Linked DNA regions of Homo sapiens. The protein of the gene in region 1 interacts with the protein of each later gene in a pairwise test. Each region holds a gene or a part of one and is shown on either strand. Other genes may lie near its edges. The genes, in order: TBC1D22B, LHX8, ZSCAN4 and SPATA2.

The links.
Region 2: the proteins of TBC1D22B (region 1) and LHX8 interact in binary tests that used the Homo sapiens proteins (3 or more experiments, as listed by UniProt).
Region 3: the proteins of TBC1D22B (region 1) and ZSCAN4 interact in binary tests that used the Homo sapiens proteins (3 or more experiments, as listed by UniProt).
Region 4: the proteins of TBC1D22B (region 1) and SPATA2 interact in binary tests that used the Homo sapiens proteins (3 or more experiments, as listed by UniProt).

Annotation. Positions count from the first base shown.
Region 1 is NC_000006.12:37,252,789-37,261,355, forward strand, and holds the start of TBC1D22B (TBC1 domain family member 22B), read left to right. Parts: upstream 1-4,983; 5' UTR 4,984-5,129; coding exon 5,130-5,185; exon of another isoform or gene 5,186-5,356; intron 5,357-8,567. UniProt on the Homo sapiens protein: May act as a GTPase-activating protein for Rab family protein(s).
Region 2 is NC_000001.11:75,129,962-75,137,567, reverse strand, and holds the start of LHX8 (LIM/homeobox protein Lhx8), read right to left. Parts: upstream 3,181-7,606; 5' UTR 2,614-3,180; intron 1,186-2,613; exon of another isoform or gene 966-1,185; coding exon of another isoform or gene 954-965; coding exon 879-953; intron 469-878; coding exon 307-468; intron 1-306. UniProt on the Homo sapiens protein: Transcription factor involved in differentiation of certain neurons and mesenchymal cells.
Region 3 is NC_000019.10:57,664,477-57,672,098, forward strand, and holds the start of ZSCAN4 (zinc finger and SCAN domain-containing protein 4), read left to right. Parts: upstream 1-4,458; 5' UTR 4,459-4,727; intron 4,728-5,768; 5' UTR 5,769-6,091; intron 6,092-7,622. UniProt on the Homo sapiens protein: Embryonic stem (ES) cell-specific transcription factor required to regulate ES cell pluripotency. Binds telomeres and plays a key role in genomic stability in ES cells by regulating telomere elongation.
Region 4 is NC_000020.11:49,912,402-49,920,356, reverse strand, and holds the start of SPATA2 (spermatogenesis-associated protein 2), read left to right. Parts: upstream 1-4,827; 5' UTR 4,828-4,977; exon of another isoform or gene 4,978-5,327; intron 5,328-6,654; exon of another isoform or gene 6,655-6,865; intron 6,866-7,395; exon of another isoform or gene 7,396-7,955.

The DNA.
Region 1 (8,567 bases):
CCACCACACTCCACTAATTTTTTGTATTTTTGATAGAGATGGGGTTTTGTCATGTTGCCCAGGCTGGTCTCGAACTCCTGAGCTCAAGTGATCCACCTGCCTCAGCCTCCCAAAGTGCTGGGATTGCAGGTGTGAGCTACTGTTACCCAGGTGATGTATATTTTATAATATTAAAAAACGGTAACATTAAAGAAAAGTTCCAGAAGTACCAAGATGTATATAATTCTACCCTCTACCAAAATTTGCTTAATTTTTCCACGTTTTCTTCCAATCTTTGACAAAACCCATATATTCTTATTGAAATCATGCAAAGATATTTTATATTCTACCTTTTCCCTGCTGTACATTTCATACACCTTTTTGATGTGCTATGTAGCATTCAAATTTGCCCTCTTTAATGGTATAACATGGTTCAAGTTTATAAACTGCACACCATAATTTACATAACTTCTTCTCATGTTTAAATCTTCATATTCTTTTCATTTTCCCCTGTTTATTATTGGTTGCAAGGCAAAGAATATCTTTGTACACAGAGATTTCCCCCTTTCTTCTTGCCAGGTATGGTGACTTCTTTTCTTAGAATAAATTCTTAGGAATGAAATACCTAGTTTTCCCTTCACCCCCCAAATTCTAAAAACTTTCTCTTCCTCTCTTTATTCCTATAACCTCTTACTTTTTCAGTCTTTTTGCTTATCCCCTTGCCTTCTCTAATATAACTGATCTCTGCCATTGGCTCTAACAGTGGTTGTTTAGATACTATAAAGCTCTCTTGCTGTTAAATCCCAGCTTGACCTCACTATCTCTTAGGTGGCCCAACATTGCACAGTGCATTGTGAGGGCTGCTTCTTGCTCTCATTTCTTAACCCTTCCCCTCATCACAGTGTCTACTTCCTTCCTTCCACTCCACTCCTTCACTAAGGTTAAAGTCTGCCAGGGATCTCTCTGTAAGTCCAAAGGCTTTTTTCTCTATTTTTATCTTCCCATTGGAGCTCCTGTCCTGAAGTGACTTTCCTCCTATAGTTCTTCAGGCCTTTCTCTTTCCTTTTCTCTCCCTACTCAAGGATTATCTCTTTCATAAAACTTTCTCTAAGGGTTGGGATATGCCTACCTCTTTTGAGTCCACAGTCAACCCAGGCATATCTCATCCCTTAACTATACTTTGCCACATTTTAAGTTGTTTAACCCTCTTTTGAATGAAGATGAAGTTGAGGGGGGGAAAGTAAAAACTTGCAGAAGCCTCTACTTACAGTTTCAAAATAAACTCTTGAGATAAAGTAAACAATCACAGGCCATACTGTATTAGTAACAGAAGATCTATAAAGTGAGGTCCATGGATCAGCAGCATCAGTGTCACCTGGGAGCTTGTTAGAAATTCTGAGTTGTAGGCTCCACCTCAGACCTCCTGAATCAGAATCTAGGTTTTTAATATAATCCTCAGTGATTCACATGTGCAATATAGTATAGGAAGCACTGGTCTAGTGGACCAGTGAATGTCTGCCAAGAAGGACCTCCATCAGAAGGCCTCTAAGGACCCCTTGGGAACCTCAAACCAATGATTTACACCTCTTGCTGGGCAAGGGTGGCTGCCATACCTATCAGCCCTTTGATGACAGCTACCAACTGATCTCCTGACTAGGTGGGTGGCCTCCCTCCCTCATCATTCCAGGTACAGGCACATTCCTTTGAAGCTGCAAAAGAGTTTGAAGAATACAATCTTTCTCAGAGAAGACTGTTCTTCAACCAAGGATGTAGGCAAGGATGTAGAGTCATTGGTAAAGTGGACACATCCTACTAGGGGTTAGGAAACACTGTTTCTATCATCTTTCCTAACATAAAAATATGTGAACAACATAGAATCGAAAGACAAGAAATATTTATATTCTTCCTTCTTTCACTCAGTAAATATTTACTAAGCACTCACTATGTTCCAAACACTATTCTAGGTGCTGGGGATACAGCAGGGAACAAAACAAAGTCCCAGTCTTAGTGGGGTTCACGATCTCTAGGGCAGTAGTCCCCAACCTTTTTGGCACCTGGGACCAGTTTCAGGGAAGACAACTTTTCCATGAAAATTTTGGGGGAGGGGGGTTAAAGGATGAAACAGTTCCACTTCAAATCACAAGGCATTAGATTCTCATAAGGAGTGCGCAATGCAACCTAGATCCCTTGTATGAGCAGTTCACAATAGGGTTCAAACTCCTGTGAGAATCTGCTGCTGCTGCTGATCTGACAGGAGGCGGAGCTCTGGCAGTAATGATTGCATGCCCACCCGCCACTCACCTCCTGCTGTGCGGCCTGGTTCCTAACAGGCAACAGACAGGGGGCCTTTACTCTAGGGGATGGAGATGGACAACAAACAAGTACATAATATGGCCTGTAGTGATAGCGCTTTAAAGAAAAATAGAGCCAGGCAATAAGACCAATGGGCATGGCTGCAGCAGATTAAGCAAGAAAGAAAGCATAATGAGATGAGACTGGAGAGGTGAGTGGAGCCAAGTCATGTAGGGTCTTTAAGGAGCTTGGATTTTATGCCAAGTACAATGGGGGCCATTGCAAAGTTTTCAGCAGAGGAGTGACATGATATCGTCTACATTTTAACAGGGTGTCTCTGGGCAGGGTGCGATGGCTCCCACCTGTAATACTAGCTCTCTGGGAGGCCAAAGGTGGTGGATTGCTTGAGTTTCAGGAGTATGGGACCAGCCTGGGCAACATGGTGAAACTTCATCTCTACAAAAATACAAAAAATTAGCTGGCCATGGTGGTATGTGCCTGTTAGTCCCAGCTACTCAGGAGGCTGATGTGGGAGGATTGCTTGAGCCCAGGAGATGGAGGTTGTAGTGTGCTGAGATCATGTCACTGGACTCCAGCTTGGGTGACAGGGCAAGACCTGGTCTCAAAAAAAAAAAAAAAGGTCTCTCTGGTTGGTATATGGGGAATGGACTCTAAGGGGCTAAGAGTGGAAGCAGGGAGCCGAATAGCAGGCTGCTGTAAGCAGGTGTGTGGTTGGTGAAGATTAGGGTGACCAAGTGGTAGTGGTGAAAAAGGTTCCAACAATCTCAATTTCCCTATTTAAAAAGTCATCACAAGGTAACTGATGTGAATTTTTAAAAAATCTTGGAGGGGAAACTGATATAGAAAACAAACTGTAGAAATAACAGGGCTTTTCTGGGTTGAGCACTGTTAACTACACCCCCTGGGAATCAGTGTCATTTAACATTTCATAGAAGATTAAGAAAAAGGAGTATTTTGAGATATGTCTAGATACACAAATCATACTTTGCTTTCCACATAGTAAAATGTCAAATCAATAGGGAGCAGCTTCTGGAACATCTCTAAAGCCATGTGCATAAGCTGGAAAGTGGCAGGTATCTTGTCACATGGATGAGTGTATGGCAGCTCACATAGGGAAAGACAATTCAGAGGATACCTTTAAGACAATGAACTCTGAACTGCTGGTTGCCACCAAGGTAAGGAATCTAGAAGTTGTTTTAGATTACTCTTTCAAGACATCAACTCTTCTAAAGTCCAAACAGCCAGCAAAAGGTCTGGCTGTCCAGAATAAAGACAAAACATCAGCCTTAACAAAGCCTCAGTACATCCCTCTTTGGGCTTAGTGTGCAGTGCTGGTCACTGCATCCTAAGAAAAAGAAGCGCCAGAGAAAGGCAAGTAAAATAATTAAAAGAATAGAGGGGCTTTTTTTCTCTGGGTTAAATGCCCATAAAGAAGATAAGATGCTTTTATAGCATGAAAGACTCAGAGGAAGTAAAAATAGCCCTTGTCATCCAATCCTATAATTCTTAAATTAGGGGACAAAAGAAGCTTGAAAATGGGAGTAATGAAGAAACCGTCGTTGGAGGACATATAAAAGAAGGTCCTTCTTTGGCTGGGGCCAGGGGTCAGGTCTTTAAGTATTCTCCAATATGTGGAAGTACATGTGGTAGCTGTAAATGGAGGGTGGGGGTGGGGGTGGGGGACACGCAGCCCACCTCAACAGTCCTTCGAAGGGACAAAAACCACTCTGGACTGGTGCCCGCCTTCCCTCTTTCCCCAAATCACCACGGAATACAACCACAGAAACTCAAAACCAGCAAAAAACGCTGACAAGACATTCAAAGGATTCAAAATGCTAATACTAAATCTCATTGTCTGGGAAAATTAGATTGAAAATAAATTCAAGGGTGCAAGATTTATAATAGATTAACAAGGGAAATTAAGGATGTTGGTGGGGCCGGGAGGAGATACATCCTTAACTTTGTGATTCACACGATGGAGCAATACTGTGTCCTTCAAAGAAATGGTATTTGGTAATCTGAGTTGGACAGCTATCATAAACCATTTCCTATATACACTGTTAGCATAGTCAGAAAGTGAGAGTTATGGATTGACATAGGGATTAGATCATTTGAATTTTTAACCCACAGCACAAGTCCTTCAATCGTTTTCAATAAACAGAGGGAGAGGGAGACTCTGATGAACCGTTGCTCACGTGTTGAACAGTTAGCAATCCCGGGCTATCGGGTCCCTGCTGACCTTCCTTCAGAAAAACGAATGGACATGTAAACGGAATGAGGAAAGGAGGGTAATAACCAGAGTGTCATTGAATTGAGAGATGTTAAAAATGGGCCACAACCAACACATGGGCCCTTACTTTTAGGTGAAAGATTCCTATATATAAATACATAGTATGTTCTCTCTTGCCAAGAAATATTAGACTAAGGAACTTCATTCCTCACGAAGAAGATAATCCCCTCTTCCTTCCCATAGGTCCCTTACCTTACCTGCTTCTTCCCTCTCGCGGGTAGGAACTTTGAGCCCCGCCTCTCGGCTCGTCCAAGCTCCGCCTTCCCCGTCCACCTGTGTGCCCAGCCCCTGACGTTACCGGTCGGCTTCAGCGGCCTGCAGGATTCCGGCTCCCAATTGGTCGGCCCGTCCACGGCTTGCGCAGCTCACCAATGGCAGCGGTGCTGGGTGGAGGGGTGCCCACATCCAAGATGGCGTCCCCAGGAGCTGGGAGCGGGTGACCGGCGGCGGGGAAGCGGCCTGGGTTGGCCCTCAGATTGCGGGGTCTGGGGGCATCTCGCCGGGCAAACCCTTGGCCCGCCTACAAGGACTTCCCCCGGCCAGAGCAATGGCCGCTGAGAACAGCAAGCAGTTTTGGAAGAGGAGCGCTAAGCTGCCGGGGAGGTGAGCCCAGGACGCTGAGAGGGATAGGGGATTGGACCAAACCCTTCCAGATCCTAATCCCTGAATCCCGCGGGCCTGGGGCGCCACAGAGGCCAGAAGACTGGTTTGGGGAAGCTGGGACTGCCTGGTGGCGGCAGGGCAGCTGTCAGGCAGCGAAGCGAACAGCGAGCTTTGGGGACGGCTGGATGTGGGTGTAGACCGGGGTCTGGGGGCGGAGGTTTCAGGAGGGGTGACCTCAGCGGGAAGGTGGCCGAAGATTGGGCGTAAAGGGGAGTGGAGTTGGGTGAATAGTCAGTGTCGGCCCTGGTCTCGGAAGTTCCTCCCCAGAGCTGCTTCCCACTCTAATTAGGACTCCCTCTCAGGGGTCTCCACCACGCACAGGTGGTTGGTCGCTCGAGGATGGCCCCTTCCCTTGATCCCTGAGGTCGGCACTTACCCGAAGGATTCCGGTGGGAGTTTGGGGCCGCCTGCCGAGAGGGTTAGGCAGGAAAAGTGAGGACGATTCTCAACCCTGACCTTACTTTATCTTGAGTTGGCCCTTTCCCACTAGGAATTATTACAAGACGACCACAGAATCAGGGTTATTCCTTTGGCATTTTCTAAGGATTTGTCCAACCCCAAGTGACTTCTTCCTCCCCTGCATTGTAATGCACTTCTTGTGCAAATGCACTAAATTCGTTCATTCTTCAGTTGTTTAACTGGAGAGCAGACCCCCTAAGACTACCCCCACCCTCTTTTCGGTGTATGTTGAGACTTTTGGCAAATTATCCATCCATCAATCTACTGTTGGTTTACTGTTTCAGTTTATTTTGGGCAAAGTCCTGAGAAGTATAAGGAAGAGTGTGTATTTCAGTCGTAAATTTAAGATTTCTGCCAGCTACAGTCTACTTGGTGATGAAATTCATGTTTGGTTGTGTCCCCTGTGCTACCTTTTCTAATGGATTCAGGTTTTTTCCTTCTGGGATAATCTTTTGAACTCGTGACTTTTTTTTTTTAAGCGAGAGAGAGATGAGGGTCAGTAGTGGCTAGGTAAGAGCCTTAATTTTTTTTTTTTTTTTAAATGAAATAGAGACAAGGTCTGACTGTGTTGCCAGGGCTGGTCTCTGACTCCTGGCCTCAAGTGATCCTCTTGCCTTGGCCTCCCAAAGTGTTGGGATTACAGGCGTTAGCCACCATGCCCCACCAAGAGTCTTATTTTATTAAGGATTCTAGTAGACATATGGAGAATAGGGTGGAAATCAGCTTTTAGTAATACTTATTAAAGTAATAGAAAGGAATGCAAAGATAACTTCAGATTAAAGTGCTGTGGACTCAACAGTGTTAATATTACTGTTAAAGATGTTCTGTGTTTTTAGGTAAGCACACTTCCTGCCAACTGATTCCTTTTCCTTCCTGGTCTAGTGAGCTCTCTAGTTGTGCTAACTGCTATTCTCTGGGGTTTTCCGTAGTGAGATCATTAAATTTTGACATCCTAAGATTATAATCATAATCAATAGGAAGACTGTTGTATCAGGAAGCAGTGTAAGAGATGTGGGACGTGGCATGGGCTTCTGTGCCTTCTGACTGCTGGTTGCTATTAACAATCTTTTTTTCCTATATTTCCTGTATTTGGCTATAAGAACAGTCAACTTTTTTAAAGCACTACTTTTCTGAGATAGGAAGAGAAGTCTTTTCAGTTTCTTCAAGTTTCTGGATTCCTTTTTCATTTTGAAGAATATAGAGAAATAGAGAACTTTCGAGTTCAGAAAGACTTGGGTTACTATTTGGGCTCTGTTGTGTGTGTGACCAAGACAAATAATCTTTCTAGGCCTCAATTTCCTTACCTATGAAATGAGAAATAAAAATACTTTCCTCAGAGTTACTGTGGGGACTAAGTGAAATACCCTATTTGTAAAGAGCCTAGGACAGTGTTTATTTAGCACATTATAGTTGCTCAAAAAAACAGTAGTTATTAACATTGCTGTCATTATTACAGCAAGTAAACATTTAAAATAATGTTACTCAGATCCTTACCCCAGCTCATTGTCTTCGTTGTTTAAGGTATTCAAATATTGTCACAATTCATAATAGTTTTTAGTACCTTACTTGGTAAAGAGAAATACTGTTCAGCTGTGTGCTTTTAGCAGTGAAGCCCACAAGCCTCTGGTCATAGGAGAAAACTAAGGTTCTTTTAGATAGAAAGGTACTTTGGTTTAAAGAAAATGTTAGGGCATTTTCTCAAGAATAGAACTTTTGCATCTGTACTCTTTCGGTCTTAGAGAAGAAAAACTTTCTCCTGGGTGGGGAAATGACACAAATGACTCTACTGGATGCATGCAAACTTGGAAATGAAACTAGTTTACTCTTCTTTGCAAATTGAAAGGTGAAAAATAAAAGCGATGACAGGGTTCTTTCCATTTGTCTGATCATGATCCAACAATCTTAGTGACAACAAATAGAAATTTTATTAAATAAAAGAAGTTGCAAATGAATGAAACATTCTTTTTAAAAATAACAGCTTTATTGAGATATAATTCACATACCATAAAATTCACTCTTTTAAAGTGTACAATTCAGTGGTATTTAGTATATTCATTTATAGTATAGATGGTTTTGTGCAACCATCACCACTAATTTCAGAACATTTTCATCATCCTGAAAAGAAACTACATACCTGTTTACAGTCACTCCCCATCCACCCCACTCCAGACCCTGGTAACTACTAACCTACTTTCTGTTTCTGTGGATTTACCACTTTTGGACATTTTATATATATGGAGTAATATGATCTGAGGCCTTTTGTGAGTGGCTTCTTTTATTAAGCACAGTGATTTCAGGCTTGTCCACGCTGTAGTATGTATCAGTACTTCATTCCATTTTATGGCTGAATAATATTCCATAGTATACATACACCACATTTTGTTCATTCATCAGTTGATGGATATTTGAATTGTTTTCACTTTTGGGCTATTGTACGTAATGCTTTTATGAACATTTATGCAGAGGTTTTTGTTTGGATATATATTTTCTATTCTTCTGCTGATAAATAGGAGTGGAATTGCTGGGTCATGTAGTAACTTGGTGGAACTAAGCATCTTTTAAGTTCTCTCAGTTATTCACATGAGCCCCATTTACTTAGCACATCAAATGGTCATTGTATTAATGCCTAGAAGATAAGAGGCAATCTCTACCATTGCAGGCTTTGGCAGGTGTGGTGGCCTGTAATCCCAGAATTTTGGAAGGCTGAGGCAGGTGGATCGCTTGAGGCCAGGAGTCCGAGACCAGCCTGGCCAACGTGGTGAAACCCCCCATCTCTACTAAAAATACAAATTAGCTGGGCTTGGTGGTGTGTGCCTGTAGTCCCAGCTACTCAGGAGGCTGATGCCCAAGAATCTCTTGAACC
Region 2 (7,606 bases), on another chromosome or scaffold:
GGTTTTTCCACTTCCCTTCCACTACAAGCCAGTGGCTGACTCCAGCGCATCCACACACATCCGGCGCGTCCAGACCAGGATGTGTCACACATTAGCTGTTTTGCAACGACATAGAAGAGTCTGGGATTTCTTCTCACTTTATCCCACCGCATGAGTTGCCCTAAACTGGGCTGATTTTCTGCAAAAGCCTACAACCTTCACCCAGAACTTGAACGGAAAGGTTGGTGGGAGGAACATTACTCTTTTCCCAGAGCTCCCACGCTAAGCCCGCTCCCCTTGGGCCTCGCACCCGAGGCCCTATCCTACCTTGAGAAGGTATTTGTCCACGATCTCCAGGCCGCAACTGTTGCACACACACTTGCCAGGAGGGCAGCCGGAGCCCGAGGCCATGGACCGGGGCGAGGACGACGGGGACAGCGGGGCCGAGGAGGAGCACGAGTCCTCGTCCCCCGCTCCCTCGGGGCTCACCTGCAGGAAACCGCGAGGCGCAGGCGGTTCTAGACCCCTCCTCCCCTTCGCATCCCACCTACCCACAAGGGCGCCCCCACCGCCTCCCCTCCCTTCCCCCTGGCCACCCCACCCCACCCCCAGCTTCTTGAGGTCACGATTCTCGCCCTCTTCCCCGAGTCCAAGCTCTGGCTACGCACCCGCTGGGGCTGCCGACCCCTGACCTATTCGGACCCCAGAAGTCTTGCGGCCCTGCCCTCCTCGCGGGCCAGCTAAGCTTCCCACCCCACCCAGACCCTCTCCGCCCCGTCCTCTGTCTGCTGCAGGAGGGGCCAGCTGGGCCCTGGAAGGAGCGCGGGGACAGCGGCCCTTCGTCCTGCGCCGCCTCCCCACGGCCAGTCTTGCCAGCACGCGAGCCCCTCCGCACTCACCAGTCCCTCTTCCCCGGCGCCTTTGCGAGTCCTCCCGGCCGCCAGGGCTGTAGTCCGCCCGCACTCCTCTGACATGAGCCCCTGACACTGCGGAGTAGGAGGGGGAGAAAGTATGGAGAAACAGATCAGAAGTTCCGAGCGTGCTGCCCGCCCCAGCCTCGGCGCGGGGAGCGAGCTAATGAAGGCCCTCAGAGTGCGGGGCAGCGCGTGCAGCCGTCACGGCGCCTGAGCCCGGGCGCCGCGGGCGGGCTGGCGCGCAGCCTCCTTCGCTGGCCGCTGGCGGCCGCCACCCGAGCGCTGGTAGCTCGTCCCGCGCTCCCCGGGCTCCGGGTCTCCGGCGCTCACCCGGGCACGTCGGTTCCCCGCCCCCCCGCCGGGGATAACAAGTTAATAACAATCATCCCCTCACAAAGCTCTTTCTTTCCAGACGTCAATCATAGCGGAGCGGGGAACACCGGGCTAAAGGGGGTGCGGGGCAGTGGGAGGTGGAGTGCGAGAGAAGAAAAGAGGATTGAGGAGGGGGTGGGAGAAGAAACTAGATTTCTTTAATAACCTCAATTAAAAGAGCAAGACACATATATATTTTAAAAAGGGGGCTTTTTGAATAGGATAGCCCGAAAGGTGAAGAGGTTTAATAGGATACTTGAAAGCTAATTACAGCGGGATTTAAGAAGCCTGGTGTTTGTTCCGATGACAATTTGAATGAAAATGCTTCAGATTAAACCGAGCCAGCAGCTCTTTCGTAAACTTACAGCAATTAGAGTGGCGAGTGATTTACACTCGTTTCTTTAAGGTGTAAATTGCCACTTATTGCTCAGTAAGTCAACATTTGAGCTACTAAAGGATTATTTTTAACCAGCGCAAAAAGCGGGTAGAATAATGGAAAATATCCAGCTGAATTTAATTTGTGCCATTAAAAGAACTCACCCAACCTCTGACAAAATGTTTTAAAGAAACAACGCGCGTTACTCAAGTGTTTCCAAGTATTTGCTGGAGTTTTGTTCTTAAACGAAAACGCAGCGTCCCTGGGCTTAGACCGCTTTCGTTTCCAAAAACTCTAGCTCGGGGGCGGGTGGGTACCCCGAACTCGAGCGGCTCGCACTTCTGCATTTCTGACTGTTCGCCTCCCCTTCTCCCTCCCTCTGGAAGCACCAGGCAAGATACCAACCTGGGGGCCTCCCGGACCGTCGGCCGAGACCCTCCCTTTCTGGGGTGCGCTCCCTACGCGGGACCCAGCGTAGCTGCACTGAGGCCGCGTCCTCACACACAAAGGGCGTTTAAACAGAACAGCTCCGCTTTCGCCTGGTGTCCCCAACCGGCTTCGGAGCAAAGAAATAGTCAGGGGCGCCCCGCGCGCGTCCTGCTGAGGCCCTCAGACAGGCTGCAGATGATTTCAAACTTAAAACACCAAATACCCACAGGTCCTGCCTCCCGAGTGAGGTGAGAGCTTGTCAGCTTCCCCAGTCTACTCAGACAAACCGCGTGACTCGTTTTGTGCCCTGCGGTTTTCTTTTGGCATTTTAGGTAAAATGGCTCTCCCGGCAAGCCCAGGGATCCCGGAGGCCTTTCTGGAGCCCCGCAGAGGGAGGTGTGCCTCAGGGCAGGCAAGTGTCCGCGGGCAGCCGAACGAAACGAGCCAGGTCTCCGGTTCCACCCGACAGCCGCCCAGTCCTCCCGACCCACTCTCCCGGACCGCCACGATCACCACAGCAAATAGAACAAAAGCACGACTCACATGGACCTGAGAGCGCCTTAGGCTCGAGGCTTCATCTCCCAAATTACAGTCTCCATGTCTCAGGTTAAGTGAGCTTTTGGGGAGGGAGTGCAATGATTACTGACTAACGCTACTACGTAATAAAAAAAAAAAATTGCCAGGTCTGAAGATGAGGCCGTTACAGGTAGTTTCTGAACCTTGTTTAGGAGCCCAAACAACTCGAGTTTCAAGGACACTGCGATTCAGCTGGTCTGGCCAGGCGTCGGCTCGCTCACCTTCTCAGGGGGAACTGCCAGCTCCGGCACGTCCTTTGCTACTAGTTTACACACAAACATCTGATCGTTCTTCCAATACATGGCACTGCTAGGGCTGCTTATCACATACCAACTCCAGAGGGTCAGAGGCTGTCCGTGTCTGCCGATCTCCCCCCTCCCCCGCCCCGATCCACTAATAAAAGCTGATGCCGAGAAGGATAATGCTACAAGTGTGTCTTCGTCCAAAGAGGCCGCTGTGGCCTGACCACTTTCTGATGAACCGTTCTTAAAATTCCTTTCCCAGCTTCACTGAGCTCTGAGTGAAGTGAGCACTGAGCTTTTCCTGAGTCCCTCCAGGAAAAGAAAAAAAAAAAAGTTTTGTTTTCCAGAGGGTGGAACCTAATATAAAGGAAGGGGGCGTGTGGGGGAAAGTCTTTCCTGGAGAAATTGCTTCGCCTCTTTCAGGAAAACCCGCCTTCTCTACATGTTAAAATCTTTATCAGAACACGCCAACTGACTTCAGGTTTAGTACTAAAGAAAAAAAAATTGGGGGATGTCCTGTTAACTTGACTTTAAAAAATCTGCTGTCTGCATTTGCCATAACTTTTAAATTCTCGCTCCCCAACCCAAACCTAAACAAAGATTCAGGTTACATCTCTTTCTGCAGCAAGCAGAAGGGGAAGTGGAGGTCTGGGTGACTTGAAAGTTTTAGTCATTCTCTTGAAACTCGCAGCTGTCCGGTGTAGCCGAGGAATGCCACCGCTCCTGGCAGCCTGGGAGCTGACTTATCTAGCAGTTCGCGCTCCCTTTCCGAAAAGTTTTCTCATTAAGATAAAGAAGGAACATCTGAGCAACACAAAAGCTTATGATTTGCGACTAGATTTGAAATCAAGGCTACAAGAAAGACAAAAGTATGTTGCTAATGAGTATTGCTCTTTCATCTCCTAGACAAAATGTAAGCCCGAGCAGCCTTGTCTTCTGCCTCAAGTTCTGACTGCGGGGCGGGGAAGCGGCGGAGGGAGGTATTCAGGGTACCTTAATTTTGATTAAGATTGGAAGGTGTGTTTGTTTAAACAGACTCTTTGTGGTATAAACTTTATTTCATTATTTAGTGTATAAAGACAAATTTGGTTAAAAGATTATTTTTAAATGATTTTTGTTTCCATTTAAAAAGCTAAACTTCTGAAACTAAGAAGATCTAGGAGTCTATTTCTTAAAGGCCTTTAACAGAATCATAGGATTTTGCTTTAATTAGATGGAAATATATATGTAAAACACACACACGCACACACACATATCTTATCTCCTTGCCTTATTTGTATAGAAGAAAAAGAGCGAAATGATCTTGCCCAGACCCCAGCTCGGTCAGCAGCCGGCTAGCGGAGGAGATAGATAGCCTTTCCTGTGATGAAGTGAGCCTGTGTAAGAGTCTGGGACCGAGTTACCACTACAAATTTAGTTTTTCCTCCATTGCATTTTTCTCCCATAAACACTAGAGTCTTCAGAGCATTTTCCTATCGCCATTGTTTTTCTTTTCGCGCAGCTGCGCACAAGTTAATATTAGCCATCCCCCTGCCGGTCCTCTCTGGGAGATCTCGTTTAAATTTACTGAGCGAAGGGAGGAGGACGATATAATTAATCTGTGCCCTCTTAGAAAATTGAAAGATTGGGGTGGACTGACTTTTCAAAAAGCTAACTTGTGCGTGGGAACCAGAAAGACTTGTGTTTTTCATCAAATGCAGAAATCGGTATTGGGGGTGGTGGAGAAATTCACATAATGCATTTTCCATGAAATAGCATCGTTGTGGAGACCGCTCTTCCGAATGGAAAGTCAGAGTCGTGCAGAACATTGGCGCCATCAGGTCGTGTATAGAGCAGGATTTCGTTGAAAGTGGAATTAAACATAAAGGTCCGGTTTGGATATTTAATTACAGTGTGTGTGTGTGTGTGTGTGTGTGTGTGTGTTAGGGTTTAAAGTGAATCTGGGGTACTGTCTGGCTACTATCGAGGAGAATTTATCGCGCGGGTCATTTGGAGATCCAGAGAGAGCTGGAGCTGTGTTAGGGAAGCAGGGCGGGGGTGCGGGCATTTATGCGGTCTTTCCACCCACCCTCGCCTAATCAGGCGGCTCTCAGTCAGGTTTTCAAAATACTAACCTTGATCTAAGAGCGTCTATCTCTGCATAAGTGGAGAAAATGATTCATTTTTAGAGGTTTCTGGGCTTGGGGAAGAAGAATGGTCGTCAGACAGGAGCAGAAGACGTGAAAGATTGGTCTGGCCTCGCTTTACTCCAGGCGCCTTGTGGGATGCTGACCTGTCCCGGGGTGCAGCTGCGCGCACCCCTCCTTGAGCTGTAAGCCTCTGGGCGGTGAGTCAATTTCTATGTCCTGGGCGGTATAAGCCTTTGGCTGGGGGTCGAGTGTGCAAGAAGAGGGGAATGTGTTTGCTATGAATCCCAGGGCTGATCGTCCTGTCGGTCTGGGGTCCAACGACCTTCTGACCTTTTGTCAGGGGTGGGCGTACGAAGGTATAGCTTCTTCCTGGTGGCCCGGTTCCCTGGAGCTCGCGTCACGCCTCTTACCCACGCTCATCCTCGGCTGGGGCAACGGAAAAGTTATCTTCCTACTTTACAGGGGTGCGCTAAAAATCAAAAGAGTTTTTGTTTGTTTGTTTGGTCTTAGTAATGAGGGTTTTTAGCCCAAACGCCAATTGATTCCAATTTTGAACGAAGACTCTGATCAAAAAAACATCATCTTATGTGTCCACAGGTGGAAAAGCAATCGCCTGCGTCGTGACAGTTCCTACCTACTAAATTGAAAATTTGAAAATCAGAGGCGGCAGGCCCACCCAAGGTGTCTACCAACATCCGTGGACCACAGGGCTTTTTGCAAGCCCATGGGAAAGACAGCCTGAGAGACTTCGGAGTGCGTCCTGTCCCAGGCTGTGCCTCTCCTGCTTAAGGGAAGCCTTGAGTGTATCTCCCTAAAAACAGATGGGGGCAGGGAAGGGGTCTAGATCCCGTGGAGCCAGGCCTTGATTGGAGGTCCGGGCTGGAGAGAGGGAACATCAACCCGCCCTGACCCCCACAGCTTCCACTCACCCGAAGAGCTGCCTAATTGGGCTGCGAGCAGCTGCGAAATTTGTAATCGTCTAATGAGCCTTCCGCCTCGGTAATTCTTATCAAAAGGCATAAAACTGATATTTTCACACTCAGCTCGCACTGCAGGCGCCGTTTATAAACATCCTTCATCAGTGGGATGAAATTAAGCCTGCATTGACAGAGGTCTCTGGAACTCGATATTTAAAAGCAATAGATCCGAATTAGCAAATTATAACTTTAAGTAGGGAAAGTCCCCACCAACTTGACTATTGAACCCTTTGCCTCTGAGCTCCTCGGGGTGAGTAACCACACGTTTGAGAGAACTTAACCTGGAGGTTCTGCGGTGCTCAGGCAATCTCCGGAAACTCGGATTCCCGAAACTGCCCCTGCTACGGCTCCTCCCGCCCGCCTTCTAGGGACTCGCCTGGGTCAGACCTGTGGAGATCGGGGCGAGGCACAGCTGGAGCCTGAGAGAAAACGTGGTCAAAGGAGGCGCATCCAGGACTCCCGGGCGGCCTGCAGGCGCAGAAACAGAGCCCTGCTCTTGCGGACCCGAGCTTTCCCTGGCCCGCGGCCCTCACCGCCCACCTCCAGGGCTCCAGCGCCAAGGGTACAGTGGGCCATAGGACTGTAGGAGGCGGTGGAGGATGGGGAGACTTTCGCGATCATAAGAAGGTGCGGATTCTGGCAGAATTCTGGTTGGCGACTCCTTCGATCCCTGAAGGTGAAATCTCAGCTAAAACCACTCTGAAACTGTGGATGTCACACTTGGTTCAGGGTTAGGAGACCGTGTCTTTGGATTTTTGCCCATCACGTGTAACCATTATAAATATTAGTCTGGAAAAAGACTTTAGGAGATTGCTTCTAGAGGTTCTTTCCACAAACTTACCCTGCTCAGAATCTGCATAACCCCTCAGAGATGGCAGAGCTGTATACGGGCTCACCTTGGGACTTACCGGTCCCAGACTCCGTTTTATACCTTGCTACCCACAGTTTCTGAGGGTAAGAGAGGGGTGCTTTTATTCACGCCAGTGGAGGTCGCCAAAAGCGGGCGAGGGCCTCCGTCTGGGACCCACTGGTCTCTCTCCCACTGTGGGCCAAGACTGAGGTTTGATGGGCTTCCCAGCTGGGCAAGCCTGCTCCACGCGGGACACCCGGGAATCCACTGGCGGGCAGACCCTGCCTTCGCCACCCGCCCCGCGGCATTCCTCACTGCGGTCTGATGCGCCAGCTGGGGCCAGTTGTTTCAAGCGGTTCTGGAGGACCAATAGCGGAAAGCCAAGTTCTGCGACCAAGAGTCTGTACGAGTGACTCGGTGTTTCTTTCCAGCCGGTTCGCAGAGCGCCAGTAAGCTCTCCCGGTCCGCTACGGAAGAAATAGGGGAAGCGTTTCCAGTCTAAGAGAGAGGATGGGAGAGAGAAAATTAGGAACCACGCCGAAATTAAGCAGGGCAGCCTGGAAAGCTTCCCGGCTAAAAGCTATGGCGCGAAACGCTAAAGTCCATCACACCATTTATTCATTGTGACATTTCCAAGCCGACAATAGCGCCTTAAGCACGCCTGTGGTTTGGAGGTGCCGGTTTTATATGCATTTTACTGTTTAGAATGATAAACAAATCAGGACCAATGGAAACCTGATTCTAACCTCTTTCTACAGAACT
Region 3 (7,622 bases), on another chromosome or scaffold:
GCGGTCGTGCGGCCGTGGAGGACAGCGAGACCCGGGGCTGCGGCTGCAGGCCGAGGGGCCCCTGGGACAGTGAGAAGCAGCGGCGGGAGCTAGTCACGGGGCAGGGAGCGCTCAGCGGTAAAGACGGCTTCATCTGACTCCAGGGCTGGCAGGCGGCCCGGATGGCATGCCGTCTCCTGCGGAGAATTCCAATTTCCCCCTAAATCGCTCAACAAGCGAGAAGGTTTTGGGATTCGAATTCAGTGGGGCAAGCGAAGTCGCCTTTCCTTCTTAAACAGATGGAATCCCTGGTCCACAAACGTACCCTGTGCCAATTTCATACAACACGCTATGGCTGCTGCGGATGAGAACACAGCAACTCTGCCAGATGAAAAGCTTCAAGGCTCTGTGAATCCAAGGTCAAAAACGCCAAAAAGGAAAGTCCTTTTCCAGGACAAGCGCACGCGTGCTGGTCGTGGAGCGCCCCCTCCTCATGGAGACCGGCCTGGGATTGATGTCCTTCATTAACAATGAGGCTAAACTGGGCTATTCCATGACTGACCAGGGGCAAAATAGGCTTTTAGCCAGCGGCATTCTGGGAGCTCTCCCCACTAAGAAGGCCAAGGGATGTGGGGTCTGAGAGCCTGGCAGTCCTCATGCAAAGCCGCTGCTGGCTGGAAGCATAGGGGTCTTTTACCTTTTGGGATCTCTGCACGATTAGAATAGTAAAGTGGATAGTAATTGCATATTGCACTCTGCTAATGCAAGCTACAGACAAAAGCAAAAAGAATCTAGCTGCCACTGTGCTGCTAGGATTCCATTTTCTGTAACTTCAGTTCTGATACTTTTCCTGGAGTGTATCTACTTGGCTTCTGGCGGTTCTTCCCATCCCAGCCACTCCAGCAGGCTAAATCCCGCAGCACACCCCTTACCATTTGTGTAGGCTGCTAAATACAGGGAGGCACCTGGTATCTCCAGTGTCTGCAGACACAAATATGTTTACACTTGGTGTCAAATTTTGTATTTTAAATTTTAATACTTTTTTTTTTAAAGCTCATACAAAAGCAGCCAGCAGACAAGTTCACTGACATCAGTCTGCACCTGTCAGCTCCTGGGTGAATCATTGTTCTTTTGTAAATGTGTGTTTGACCTAAAGTCACCCTTTTTCTAAAATTAATCCAAGGCCGGGCGCGGTGGCTCACTCCTGTAATCCCAACACTTTGGGAGGCTGAGGCGGGTGGATCACCAGATCAGGAGTTCGAGACCAGCCTGACCAAAATGGAGAAACCCCATCTCTACTAAAAATACAAAATAAGCTGGGCAGCCCACGTCAGTAATCCCAGCTACTCCGGAGGCTGAGGCAGGAGAATTGCTTGAACCCGGGAGGTGGAGGTTGTGGTAAACCGAGATCGTGCCACTGCACTCCAGCCTGGGCAACAAGAGTGAAACTCCGTCTCAATAATAATACTGATACTTAAAATATCTTTGCGAGGCCCAAGTAGGTTTACAGAAAATCATCTTAGGACAATTTTTTAATTTGAGAAAGTCACTTTGGCAGTTCTTTGCACACAATTTTGACAAGTGTATGTATTATAAGTTGTATTGTATTCATATTTAAAAGGAAATTGGGTAGTTTGCCTTTTGAAGAATGCGCTTTTTAAAAAGGAACCATATCAGATCCTTATGAAGCAGCCGATGCCTGCCATGGTTCCTACAGGTCCTGTACAGACTCGGGGCTTTGTCCAAGTCTCCACTAAACATGCTAAGCTTCGATGCGCCCTGGAGAATTTCCACGGGGTGATCCACGCACCTCCATGAGATCCTGCAGCTTGCTTGTATGACTGGAAGCATTGGATAAGCTTCGCGTGCTGGCTCTCCAGTTCTTTCCTTCTCTTTACGACTGTTGTAGCTTTTAGCTAATGGAGTGGTGCGGTCCAAGTGCGGCCACCTACGGGAGGTGCAGGGCTGCCTCGGAAGCTGGCAGGGGACCCCAGTCTTTGCGTTCATAAAGACATTTAGAACCGGATGAATGTTGTTCCTTTTTTGAAGTTGTTATTAAAGTAGGTGCAACAACCAAAAATCAATAAATAATAAATAAATTGACTAAATATTTTTTCTCAAAAAAAAAAAAAAAAGAAAAGAAAGTCACCAGGTGTGGTGGCTCACGCCTGTAATCCCAGCACCTGGGGAGGCTGAGGTGGGCGGATCACCTGAGATCAGGAGTTTGAGACTATCCTGGCCAACATGGTGAAACCCCGTCTCTACTAAAATACAAAAATTAGCCGGGTGTGGTGGCGCATGCCTTTAATCACAGCTACTCTGGGTGCGGAAGTTGCAGTGAGCCAAGATCGTGCCACTGCACTCCAGCCTGGGCGACAGAGCAAGACTTTGTCTCGAAAAAAATAGAAAGTTAACAGTTTTGTTTATTTTCCTACCAGGTTTTTATTATTATTATTATTATTCTAATTGAAATCACTGTTTCCTACATACTGAGGCGGATTGGCTTTGTCTTCTTGGAAACAAAGGTTATTTTCCTCACTCACACTGGAGCGGGGATACTCACCAGACACAAGTTGAGATGATGCTGGATGTAAACGGGTCATCTATTTTTACCAAAGGCAGCACTACCTGCCTTCCCAATTGATCAGAAAAGCATTTGATAGTTGTCTTTGTAATATCCTTATTTGATTAAATTACTATGTGGATTTCACATTTATTTTTATTGTTTTGTGCCTGTTTATTCTATGCCTAAGTTGGGGTATCACCAGGTCATTTCCTCCACCATCTGTGTTTCCCCAAGGATAAATCCTCCTGCTCATGCCCTTCACTCCTCCATTAGCCCATTCCCTAGAAAGCTGCTGGTTTTACACAGTGGCTGTGTGTCTTTGCCTTCTTAATGTAGCATTCAGAGTCCCACTCTGGAGCCAGGTATCAAATCCTAGCCCAGCCACTTACAGGCTATGTAGCACTGGCCAAGGTACTGAACTTCTCTGTGCCTCTGTTATTTTGATGTTAAAATGGAGTTATTTAGGATCTACTTTACAGGACTGTTGTGATGGAAATGGGTTAACATACAGAAAGCACTGAGAACAGAGTCAAATATGCCCTGACTGCTTAAAGGTTAGTTATTATGATCCCTGATGCTATTACTACTCTTACTGATATCATCGTGCCTCAGGTCTAACTGCTCCCAGAGTTACACACCAGCATGTCCAACAGCTGGCTGTATATCTGAACTCAAAAATCCAATAACCTCCTCCAAACAGAAATTGCCAGCTTTTCCCCAAACCTTTTCCTTACAGCTCCTTACAGAGCTCAAGGAACTCCTTGAGACTGCAGAAGCAGACAGGAAATGCTTTCAACCCACCACAAATTAACAACTGGCCTCCAGTGGTACTCACATTGTCTACATTTTTCATTGTTTTTTTTTTGTTTGTTTTTTGTTTGTTTGTTTGTTTGTTTTTGAGACAGAGTCTCACTCTGTCGCCCAGGCTGGAGAGCAGTGGTGCGATCTTGGCTCACTGCAACCTCGGCCTCCCAGGTTCAAGTGATTCTCCTGCCTCAGGCTCCCGAGTACTTGGGATTACAGGTGCCTGCCACCATGCCTGGCTAATTTTTGTATTTTTTTAGTAGAGACGAGGTTTCATCATGTTGGCCAGGCTGGTCTCAAACTCCTGACCTCAGGTGATCCACCCGCCTCGGCCTCCCAAAGTGCTGGGATTACAGGCATGAGCCACTGCGCCCAGCCCATTTTTCATTGTTGTAGCAGAGAAGTATCCCTGCTTCCATCAAGAGCCAATTTTCCTGTCACAGTTGGTTTAATGACATAGTTGGTGACAGGACCTAAACCACCAGTGGAAAATTGGCTCTTGATGGGAGCAGGGATACTTCTCTGTATGGAGTATATGTGGATGAAACTCCTTGGAGAAATGGACTAGTACACAGTCTTATAATGTGAGGATTCAGAACATAATTCCTAATGTGGGGAAGTCAAGCAGACATTTCATCAGTGGAGTACCAGGAGATTCAAACTCTGTACCCAACAGTGATAGGGGGACAATCTAAGCCCCAAGAGGCTGCATGCCTGATGGAGCAGATGAAACACATGGCTGTAATTAGCTCCCACCCCTTCGATACGTTCTCAACTCCACCAAAGCCTCAGCCTGTATGAGGGTGGAAAGTGGGGAGGGAGAGTGCAGGGAAGAAGGCACAGCTTCCACCACACTAGGTGACCAGGCGCTTCTCACCATTTTAACTCCTCCATCTCTCTCAAGCCTCATGTTAAGTCTATCAAACATCATATGCTTTCTCAATATAAAATATGCACCAATTTCTCCCTTTCCACTGATATAATCCTAGTCTCAACCCCTGTCATCTTTTTGATGGATTAGGAATGCCTTCTCTGGGTCCCGGGCCCCCTCTGTTTCACCAGCCTGGAATTGGCACAGGAGTCACAGCATTAGCCTTGCCCTCTGCCACCCTTGTAATTCATAAATCTCTGAAAACTTAAAAGTTTGAGCAAAAGTTTGTCATGTTTCTATGAGTAATTTATAATAAAACTTGATCAGAATTTGTGAGACTAACGTTTGTCTTTATATTTTCCTTTTTTTTTTTTTTTTTTTTGAGACACAGTCTCGCTCTGTCGTCCAGGCTGGAGTGCCGTGGCGTAATCTCGGCTCACTGCAACCTCTGCCTCCTGGATTCAAACAATTCTTCTGCCTCAGCCTCCTGAGTAGCTGGGATTACAGGTGCATGCTACCACGCCCAGATAATTTTTGTATTTTTAATAGAAACCGGGTTTAACCATGTTGGTCAGGCTGGTCTCAAACTCCTGACCTCATGATCCACCTGCCTCGGCCTCCCAAAGTGCTGGGATTACAGGCGCGAGCCACCACACCCAGCCTGTCTTTATATTTTCATTTAATGTGGACCTTGTTACATTTTACCGCAGATTTTGTATTTTTGTGTGTGTTTGTTTGTTTGTTGGTTTTTGAGACAGTCTACCTCTGTCGCCCAGGCTGCAGTGCAGTGGCACAATTTCAGCTCACTGCAACCTCCGCCTCTGTGGTTCAAACAATTCTTCTGCTCAGCCTCCTGAATAGCTGGGACTACAGGCACGCGCCACTACGCCTGGCTAATTTTTGCATTTTTAGTAGAGATGGGGTTTCACCATATTGGCCAGGCTGGTCTCGAACTCTTGACCTCGTGATCCGCCCACCTCGGCCTCCAAAAGTGCTGGGATTACAGGCATGGTTTTTTTTTTGTTCGTTTTGTTTTGTTTTTTTTTTAGAGACTTGGTCTCCTTCCATTTCCCAGGCCAGAGTTCAGTAGGGCGGTCATAATCCACTGTAGCCATGAACTCCCTGGCTCAAACAAGCTACACAGACATGCCACCATGCCTGGCTAACATTTTTAACATTATTTTTGGTAGAGACAGGGTCTTGCTTTGTTGCTCAGGCTAGGGATTCACAGAGTCTTGCTCTGTCTCCCAGGCTGGAATGCAGTGGCGCAATCTTGGCTCACTCTAGCCTCTGCCTCCCAGGTTCAAGTAATTCTCCTGCCTCAGCCTCCCAAGTAGCTGGGATTACAGGTGCCCACCACCATGCCCGGCTAATTTTTGTATTTTTAGTAGAGAAAGGGTTTCACCATGTTGGCCAGGCTGGTCTTGAACTCCTGATCTCAGGTGATCTGCCTGCCTCAGCCTCCCAAAGTGCTGAGATTACAGGTGTGAGCCACTGCACCTAGCCTGCAGAAATATTAATGTGTTTGTTTATGACCTGTTGACCCAGGACCAGTGATGGTATAGAACACTGTATTAGAGACATGGAGCTGGGGCTGGATGAAGATTCCATCAGTAATTCAATCAACAGACAAGTGTTATCCAATCACGTCTTTAAATCAATCACTGACATGGAGCTGGGGCTGGATGAAGATTCCATCAGTAATTCAATCAACAGACAAGTGTTATCCAATCACGTCTTTAAATCAATCACTGATCCCAGCCCCTATAAAAGGGAGCAGCCTTAGGAGGCACATCAGATAAACCCAGTGTGGAAAGCTAGTCACACATCAGCTCAGTGTTCGGCCCGGGATTACCCAGTCAACCAAGGAGGTAAGCTTCCATAATGGAAGGAAAATTTTGTGCCTTTGAGTGTGTATACATTTTGTGTCTTTGAGTGTGTATACATAATTTTGTGTCTTTGAGTGTGTATACATGTGTATGTAGGCATAGCTATTTCAGGAAAATTCCTAACTACAGAGATATGGGGGTCTCCCAGGTGTAGGGAATGGTCTTTTGTTACAACAGCTCTGACCCAAAAGGGCTTGATGTTGTGAACTCTGTATAAAGGCCTGGTGTGACTGAAGATTTTTCTTCAAAAAGTCTATCGTATGACTTTATGTTCTAGTAATTCTTTTTTTTTTTTCGAGACAAGATCTCTATCACCCAGGCTAAAGTTTAGTAGCCCCAATCACAGCTCACTGCAGCTTCAGCCTCCCCAGGCTCAAGTGATCCTTCCACCTTAGCTTCCTGAGCAGCTGGGACCACAGGCGCACACCACCACACCAGGTTAATTTTTCTATTTTTTGTAGAGGCAGGATTTTGCCATGTTGCCCAGTGTGGTCTCAAACTCCTGGCCTCCAGTGATTTGCCCACTTTCAGCCTCCAAAAGTGCTGGGATTACAGATGTGAGCCACTGTGCCCAGCTTAGTAATTCCTTTGTATTGCATTATATGAAATATGTAGCTGGGTGTCATTAGAGATCATAAAGCCCAGGATACAGACCCAGACCTGACGGGTAGCATGCCTGCGTCACAGTTTGTAATTGCCAGACTCCAGATTAGAGCTCCGGTAGCCTTGTTTTGAATTCCCAGGTTCTGGGAAATAAGCCATAATACTTTGCAGTCTTGTCTATGTGGGACGGAGTGCATGTCTCCAAGTGTGAACATGTGGTCTGTGTGTCATAGGGGAGAAAGGGTGGGTAATCCAAAAAGAGAACTTGGAGGGAAGTGAAATGAAGGGGAAGCCATGGGTTCCACAGGAAAAAAAAAAAAAAAGAGAGAGAGAGAGACCAATGTCCCTGGATATAGAGAACCAGCCACAACACCTAAGATGGAGCTTGAGAAGTGTAGAGCTGGCCCAGGAAAGCCTCGTAGGACAAGGACTCAGTGCTTTTCCCTGAGGGCAAAGGGGAGCCATCCAGAGAGTAGAGTGGGGTATGATGTGAGCAGATTAGCATTTTATAAACGTTGACTGGAAGCATTATGACAACTGGGTTAGGGAAAGGCAAGAATGTGTTCCATTGTCTCCTAGGAGATTTTACCAGGATCACCTCTGCCTTATTAACTGATGCGATCAGGGTAGCAGATCTGGTCTAATCAGACCAGATGAGATTAACACAAAGCAGGAAATAACATTAACTAACAGAAATCAGTTAGGTTTTTGTGTGTCCACGTATTACTCCTACCATTTTCTGATTTTATGGCATGAAATTTGCTTTTTTCAAAATTGCACAAATCTTTGAAATGTTAACCATATATAAAATTGGAGAAAAAACACAAAAATAGCAATGATATATTAACAGAAAAGGGATTAAATTCTTTATCCATTCAGGATTTCAAAGGGTGTGTCTCTAGTTGTCCAG
Region 4 (7,955 bases), on another chromosome or scaffold:
ACCTCAGATGATCTACCTGCCTCGGCCTCCCAAAGTGCTGGGATTACAGGCATGAGCCACCATGCCTGGATGAAGCATGATATTTTATGTTTAGCATTAGTATGGGCTCATAACTTCTCTCCCCACAATTAAGTTTTATAATCTGTTATTATTATTTATTTTGATACTCACATTGCCCATATCTGGCCAATAGGGACCCTCCATCCTGGCTTTTGTGTGCTTTCAACATGTCCCATCATTCTTTGGGCACTTCCTACTTTCTGGCTCAATAACATGTTCCAACCTCATGTTGTAATTTCCCTGACCTACCCCTGGGAATCAGCCATTTCTCCAGGAAGCCCTGGTTCCATGGACTAAGATCTGGTTAGTCTTAGTCTACGTGCTTGTTGCTACAGGTGTGCCATTTCTTCTAGGCCCTCTCAACAGGTAGAAACAGGAGGTATATTTACAAATATTGTTTATAATTAAGAAATTTTATTTAAAAATCTGGATTCCAGGCTGGACGCAGTGGCTGGTGCCTGTAATCCCAGCACTTTGGTGGGTCAAAGTGGGAGGATCACCTGAGGCTAGGAGTTTGAGACCACCCTGGGCAACACAGCAAGATCCCACGTCTTCAGAAAATAATTAACTGGGCATGATGGCATGAGCCTGTAGTCCCAGCTGTGTGGGAGGCTGGGGTGGGAGGATCCCTTGAGTCCAGAAGTTTGAGGTTGCAGTGAGCCATGATCATGCCACTGTACTCCAGTCTGGATGACAGATCAAGACCTTATCTTTAAATAAATAAATAAACAAACAATCTGGATCTCTAACTCCTCTCCAAAAATCAGAGTATCTGGTCATTCCTGGTGAGTGGGGATCTTGGCCACAAGTCAGCTGAAGCATGGAAGGAATTCAACAATATTTGTTTTCTCACTGAAGTACTTATTGGATGCCTACTGTGAGCCGGGTACCATGTTAGATTACATTACTCATTTCTGGTCCTACGCAGTGTGAGGCTATAGTACTCTAGTACCTCGTATTTGCCCACATTATGTGCTTGCAGGTAGCTGAGTTTGTGTTTTTGTTTTTTGTTTTTGTTTTTGCTTTTTTGAGACAGGGTCTCCCTCTGTGTCCCAGGCTAGAGTGCAGTAGCGTGATCTTGGCTCACTGCCACCTCCACCTCCCAGATTTAAGCGATTCTCCAGCCTCAGCCTCCTGAGTAGCTGGGACCACAGGTGGGCACTACTACAGGCTGGCTAATTTTTGTGGTTTTAGTACAGATGGGGTTTCACTGTATCGGTCAGGCTGGTCTCAAACTCTGGGCCTCAGGAGATCCGCCTGCCTCGGCCTCCCAAATTGCTGGGATTACAGGCTTGTGCCACTGAGCCCAGCCACAGGTAGCCGAGTTTTTGATCTCAGGTCCTTGCCTTTGATTGCTCCCTTTACTCCAGCTGGAAGGAAAGCTGGACAGCCTCACATGTCCAGGTCACTCAAAGCCCAGCTCAAATGCTACTTCCTCCTGGAGGCTATCCTTCATTTACCCTGTCAGAGGTCACTTCTCCATGCTCTAAGCTCTATACCCCTCTCATATCATTTACCATCTTCTATCCTGAATTCTAGGGTTTTATTAATCCTACTCCTATGTTATGAATATTCTCTTTCGGTTAAGGAGACTGGATGCTCTGTGAGGGCAGGAACTGTGTCTGTCTCACTCACAGTTATGCCCTTTAAACCTAACATCAGGGTGGGCATGGTGACTCATGCCTGTAATCCCAGCACCTTGGGAAGCCAAGGTGGGAGGATCACTTGAGCCCAGGAGTTTGAGAGCAGCCTTGGCAAAATTGCGAGACCCTCCCTCTACAAAACAGTTAACAAAATTAGCCAGATGTGGTGGTGTGCAACTGTGGTCCCCGCCACTCAGGAGGCTAAGGTGGGAGGATCGCTTGAGCCTAGGAGGTTGAGGCTGCAGTGAGCTATGATCATGCCACTACACTCCAGACAGGGTGACAGAGTGAGAGACCCTGTCTCAATTAAAAAAAAAAAATCTGACATCAAACTTGGCACATGGTAGGTATTCAGTGAAAATTCTGGTCAGAAACAAATTATGTTGAACAACCTATTGCATGCTAGGTAGTGCATATATGTCAGGTAGTAGTAATATAATTGTGAACAAAACAGACATAGTTTTGTCCTCATGGAGTTCACTGACTTCTGGGGGAGAAAGATATTAATACAGATCACATAAATGTGTGTTTGTGGAATGAAAGACAGATATCTGTATCTGTGTTCCTGTCCCCAGTTGACTTTTTTTGTTTTGTTTTTTTGAGACAGAGTCTCACTCTGTAGCCCAGGCTGGAGTGCAGTGGTGCCATCTCGGTTCACTGCAACCTCTGCCTCCCAGGTTCATGCCATTCTCCTGCCTCAGCCTCCCGAGTAGCTGGGACTACAGGCACCCGCTACTGCGCCTGCTACCACACCCGGCTAATTTTTGTATTTTTAGTAGAGACAGGGTTTCACTGTGTTAGCCAGGATGGTCTCGGCCTCTTGACCTCGTGATTTGCCCACCTCGGCCTCCCAAAGTGCTGGGATTACAGGCGTGAGCCACCGCGCCTGGCCATGCATCACCCTTTTTAAGTGATCCACAGTATTTGTTAGTATGGATATACCATTACCCCAGTGATGGAGATTTAAATATTTCCTATTATTGCTTTTGCATTAGAAACAATGATGCAAGAGGTCTCTTTGGGCACAGTGTATGTTTCTCTAGCAGATTTTGAGAAATCCAATTGCTGGGTCATGGGGTAGCTTTTCTGTTTTGCTTTTTGTTCTATACTCCTCTGTATTGTTGGAATCATGTATTACTTTGGTGATGGAAAAAAAAACTAAAAAATAGAAAGAGGTAGGTAGATTGTTCGTGTTGTTGGCTCTTCGGAAGTAGAAGTGCCTAATCATTGTCACGTGACCCTTACATAATCTGGTAATCATTATATAATAAAGTCGGGAAAGGACGCTCCTGTCATTTCTACATCACCAAGTAGAGAAATCACAAGCCTTCAACTGTGTTTAAAAGATGAGAAACATGGCCGGACACAGTGGCTCAGGCCTGTAATCCCAGCACTTTGGGAGGCCGAGGTGGGCGGATCACGAGGTCAAGAGATGGAGACCATCCTGACCACCTTGGTGAAACCCCATCTCTACTAAAAATACAAAAAATTAGCCAGGCGTGTTGGCGCGTGCCGGTAGTCCCAGCTACTCCGGAGGCTGAGGCAGGAAAATGGCGTGAACCCAGGAGGCGGAGCTTGCAGTGAGCTGAGATTGTGCCACTGCACTCCAGCCTGGGTGACAGAGCGAGACTCCGTCTCAAAAAAAAAAAAAAAAAAAAAAAAAACTGAGAAATGTGACTGTCTTTGGAGACTTTGGGTCTTTTCTGATAGTAGATGATGACCAGGGTTTCCTACTGGTAAAGCCCTTCTTCAAAATCTTTGTTTCTCTTTTGCCTGTCATAGACCCACAGAGCTGGAGGGGACTTTTTTAAGCAGCCCCACGTGAAAATGCAATATTGTAAGAGCTACCAAACCAGAGTGCTGAGTTGCTGTAAGAGGCAGACTTAAGGTGGGACAGTTTGTCTCAGATGGAATTCCTGTGAACATCATCACATTGCAGATAATTAAGAGAGGAGCTTAAACATGAGCTGATAAAGAACACAGGGACTTTGAGCGGTGCTCAGGCAACGACAGGTAAACACAGTAATGCTACTGTTTGGACAGCAGCAGATTGCTGGTTCTCCAAACGTTTCCCAGTATTGTGTCACTGACTCATCACACAAGCCCCACCGGTTTTAGCTGGGGTCACCAAGACTCAGAGTGAGAATCCTACAATCAATGAACATCTGTTGTGTGCCTCCTCATCAGACATGTGCAGAGCTCGGGGGGAAATAGATGAATAAGAAGCTCAGGGTCTGGTGGGGATGTCAGATTATATATATATATAGTTTATCCGAAAGTGCTGGGATTACAGGCGTGAGCCGCCGTGCCCGGCTTTTTTTTTTTTTTTTTTTTTTTTTTTTTTTTAAGAGACGTGGCCTCGTTATGTTGCCCAGGTTGGTCTCGAACACCTGGGAGCAAGCCATCCTCTCGCCTCAGCCTCCCGACTAGCTGGGACTACAGTCGCGTGCCACCACGCCTGGCTTTATTATTTAATATTACAGGTTAGAAAGCTGAGGCTCAGAGAGGTTAGGTAACTTGTCCAAGGTCACACAGCTAGTAAGTGGCAAAACTAAAAATAGAACCCACGCTCTTAACCGCCGCCCACGGCCCGTAACACCCGCAGCCCTAGCAAGGCTGGATTCCAATCACGCGTGATTTCAGCATCTCACTGGCTCTCTTTGAGCCTCGGTACTTCTGTCCGTAAAATGGGGGCGAGGGATCCGACCGTCAGCCCCTGCTTGCTTGTGCGGAGTCATGAGTACAGCTCGTGGATCATGATAAGTGGCAGGTCCGGGAAGTGGAGGCCGAGTTCACGCAGTCAGCACTCATAGCTCCCAGCTCCCTGCTCCTGAGCGGTTTCCATGACAACCCGGCCAGCCACCATCCCTAGGCCGAGCGGCTTGCGTCACGTCCGGCCTGTTTACTTCCGGGTCCCAGTCTCAGACGCAGCGATGGCTCGTTAGGCTCCAAAGTGCGGTTCCGCCGGTTTCGTCCTCGCTCTTCGGCCTTCCGCTTTGTCCTCCGCCTCTGGGTTGTAGTCTCCGTCGGCCGCGGGCATCGACCGCTTCCCGGAGCCAGCGCGCAGCCGTGGTCCACCCTCTCTTCGGGCCCGCCTCATGGTGACATCATTTCCGGGCCGAGTGTTTCCGGGTCGCTGCTGGCCCCCGGGTACTGGTCTCAGTACCCCTGCAGCCGGCCGGAGAGGCTAGAGCCCGACGGGGCCCGGCTCCGGCGGCAGCCGCGCCTCTCGCTTGCTTCCCTCGGCCGGGCCGTCCTCGGCGGCAGTGTCAGGGTGAGTGACGGGCGGCCGCGGGCGGAAACTGCCTTCGGGGCTTCCCCAGGCGGAGGGGGCGCCAGACAGCGGCAGGGCTCGGCTGGCCCGGGAGCGGGGTACCCTCACGGCAGGCAGGACTACAGGTGGGCCCGCTGTTTCGGCGCTCCCGGGACCCCCAGCCTATCCTCAGGACCCCCATTCTCCCGGGAGCTGCCTCGCAGGCTCCTGGGACCCGCCGAGGGTGGCTCAGGGCCGCCCAAGAGGAACACCCCTCTTCGGCGACTGGCCAAACAGAAGGACACCCCGATTTCGCCACGAGGCAGTTACCGCGCAGGGGTTCCCAGTTCAGGCTCTGGCGGCACACCTGGGTTTGTACTCACTGTGTGACCTTGGATAAGTCACTTCATCTTAAGAGCCTCAGTTGCCTATTTAAGTGATTGAACCTGGTTGCTAGGGCTGGAGTGGAGATGGAATGAGATCATGCAGGGCCTCTGGCATACAGCAGGCGTCCAATAAGTGATAGTTCCTGTTACTTCATTCAATTCACGAAGCCGTAGGGGGGGCCAGAATTTGAGACTGGGCTGTTTTTCACAACTGACGTGGCCCCCCGAGGCTGTAGGAATGACCGAGCTGGGACTTAGCAGCCGCCAGCTTCTGTCCCCTGCAGGGAGGGAAACAGCTTCCTTCAGAGCTTCTCCGAGAGAGGCAGCTGCCACTAGGGAAGCTTCTTTCAGCACCGCTGAGGTTATTTTCAGAGGTTTGGAAGGACTCTGTGTGAATTTCTTTGGAATCTAGTAGGAGTGTGGGGACCTTCTGGTGTTTCACAGCCAGTGGAAGGTGCCTTGGATGTTTCTCGGAGCCTCTTGCTTGGAACGAGTGCATTGGTGTGGGTGGGGAGGTGGAGGGGGTTGAACTGACTTCCCCGTCTCCTGTTTGGAGGCTGATGGAGCTAGACCAGGGATGTGTAAACCTGTGGACAGGGGCAGTGCACAGACCAAAATAGGTCTGCCTGTGCAGAGAGGGGGCGCCTTCAAATGCTGCTTGGGGAACATTTCTGCTTGAATGGGCCAGCTGAGGTAAAGCCAAGCTAATGCTTAGCTACTCGGAATCACTTCACTTCCATGCAGTGGGACTCTAAACAGATACAGCTTTCCTCTTAGATGTTCAAAAAATAACTAAAGAAGCCACTGGCTCCCTGACTGTGCAATATCTCTTTTTCCATTGACTTGCTTTTCAAGAAGGTACCTAGATTGTGGGTGCAGGAGGTGCTGACTGGAGCCGTTGACTCTGGGCACCTGCCTGTCTCTGTGTTCAGGATATTCACAGTGCTGTTTTTTTGTTTTTTGGGTTTTTTTTTTTTTTTTTTTCCACCAGACTGGCACGGCTTGGCGTTCCAATCCTTGGGTTGCTTGGAGAAATTAGCAGCTTCTGTCGCTGGGCTGTCTCGGTCTCCTGTAACCACGATGTTTTTGCAGAGAGCGTATTTTGTTGTTCTTGCAGAGTGCTGGGAATGAATTGCTGGCTCTGTGCTCAGAAAAAACACCAGCTATGACCAGCTACAAGGCATCTTGTATTCTCAGAAAATGTTTTCAGCAGGGATGATGTCAGCTGCTTCATCACTGGCCGATGTCTCTGACCAGCCTCTTTCCTTGGCCCTTGAGCTTACATCATATAGAGATTAGCTCTCCTAGCCCCATTCGGTGTGGGAAGATGGGAATTTTGCTACTACAGGAATTTTTGTAACTCAACTCTGCTCGCGCCGCCATAAGGCATTCTAACTTAGCCAAACACTTTCGAGTAGAGCTGTCCAGCAGATGCAGCAGGATGGCTTTGCAAGAGTCGGAGTTTTGGCGTTAGACCTAGGTTCAGAGCTCAGATCCACTTCTTCCTAGCCTTACGACTTAGGGTAAGTGAGTTGGCCTCTCCGAGCCTCAGTTTCCTCTTTAACCTTGGATCTATCCTGTGGATTTCATTGGTTTTCACAGAGCAGTTAGCAGAGGGATGCCACACAGTAATCCCTTGGTAAATGGTACTGATGTAACAATAAATGAGTGAGGTAAATTGGAGAAAGCCCAGGCATCAAGGGCCTCCCAGCAAGAGTTCAGATTCCAGCTCTGACCCTTTCAAACTCTGTTGGGCAGGTTGTTTTAATGGGAAGAGCCTGTTTTCCTTATAGAGTTGTGAGGATTAAATGGGATGATGTAGGTAAAGTGGGAAGCCCAATGCTTAGCACATAGTAGAACCTCAGTAATTGTTAGTCTCTTTCTTTCCTTTCCTTATTGACTGATTGAGACAAGGTCTTGCTCTGTCACCCAGGCCGGAGTGCAGTGGTGCCATCATAGCTCACTGCAGCCTCAAACTCCTGGGCTCAGTGGATCCCCCCACCTCAGACTCCCAAGTAGCTAAGACTACAGGTGGGTGTCACCACACCCACCTAATTTTTTTTTTTTTTTTTTTTGTAGAGACGGAGTCTAACTATGTTGTCCAGGCTTGTCTTGCCCTTAATTATCTTTTAGCTTTTACTTTCTTCCGCCTTTTCCCTCACCTACCCAGGTTGGTTTGAGATTTGTTTTAGATAGGCTTCCTGTCCTTATTGTGAGTATTTTGAACATCAGCTGGGCTGTTTGGATCCCTTTCCTTTATTTATTGTTTTTCAGCAACAAACAAGGGTGTGGACTGTGGTGCGATTATAGAGCAGCAGACGCTGAGCCGAGCTTGAGACTGGCTGACTTTGTAAAAAATCAGTCTCTTTGAGTTCAAGGCTGACTTCCTTGGAGAAAAATTACAGCAGTATTCGGAAGCTTAATGTCTCTGTGTTTGAATGGTTCTCAGACTACCAAAAAACAGACCCTGGGGCCAGAGGCGTGATGGCAGCTTCTCTTAGATAAGTCAAGAATGGTAAATGCATGTGTGACTATCCTCTCCAGTGGTGCAATACATTTATTTATGTAGAGATGGAGTTTTTGCTCTGTTGCCCAGGCTGGAGTGCAATGGCA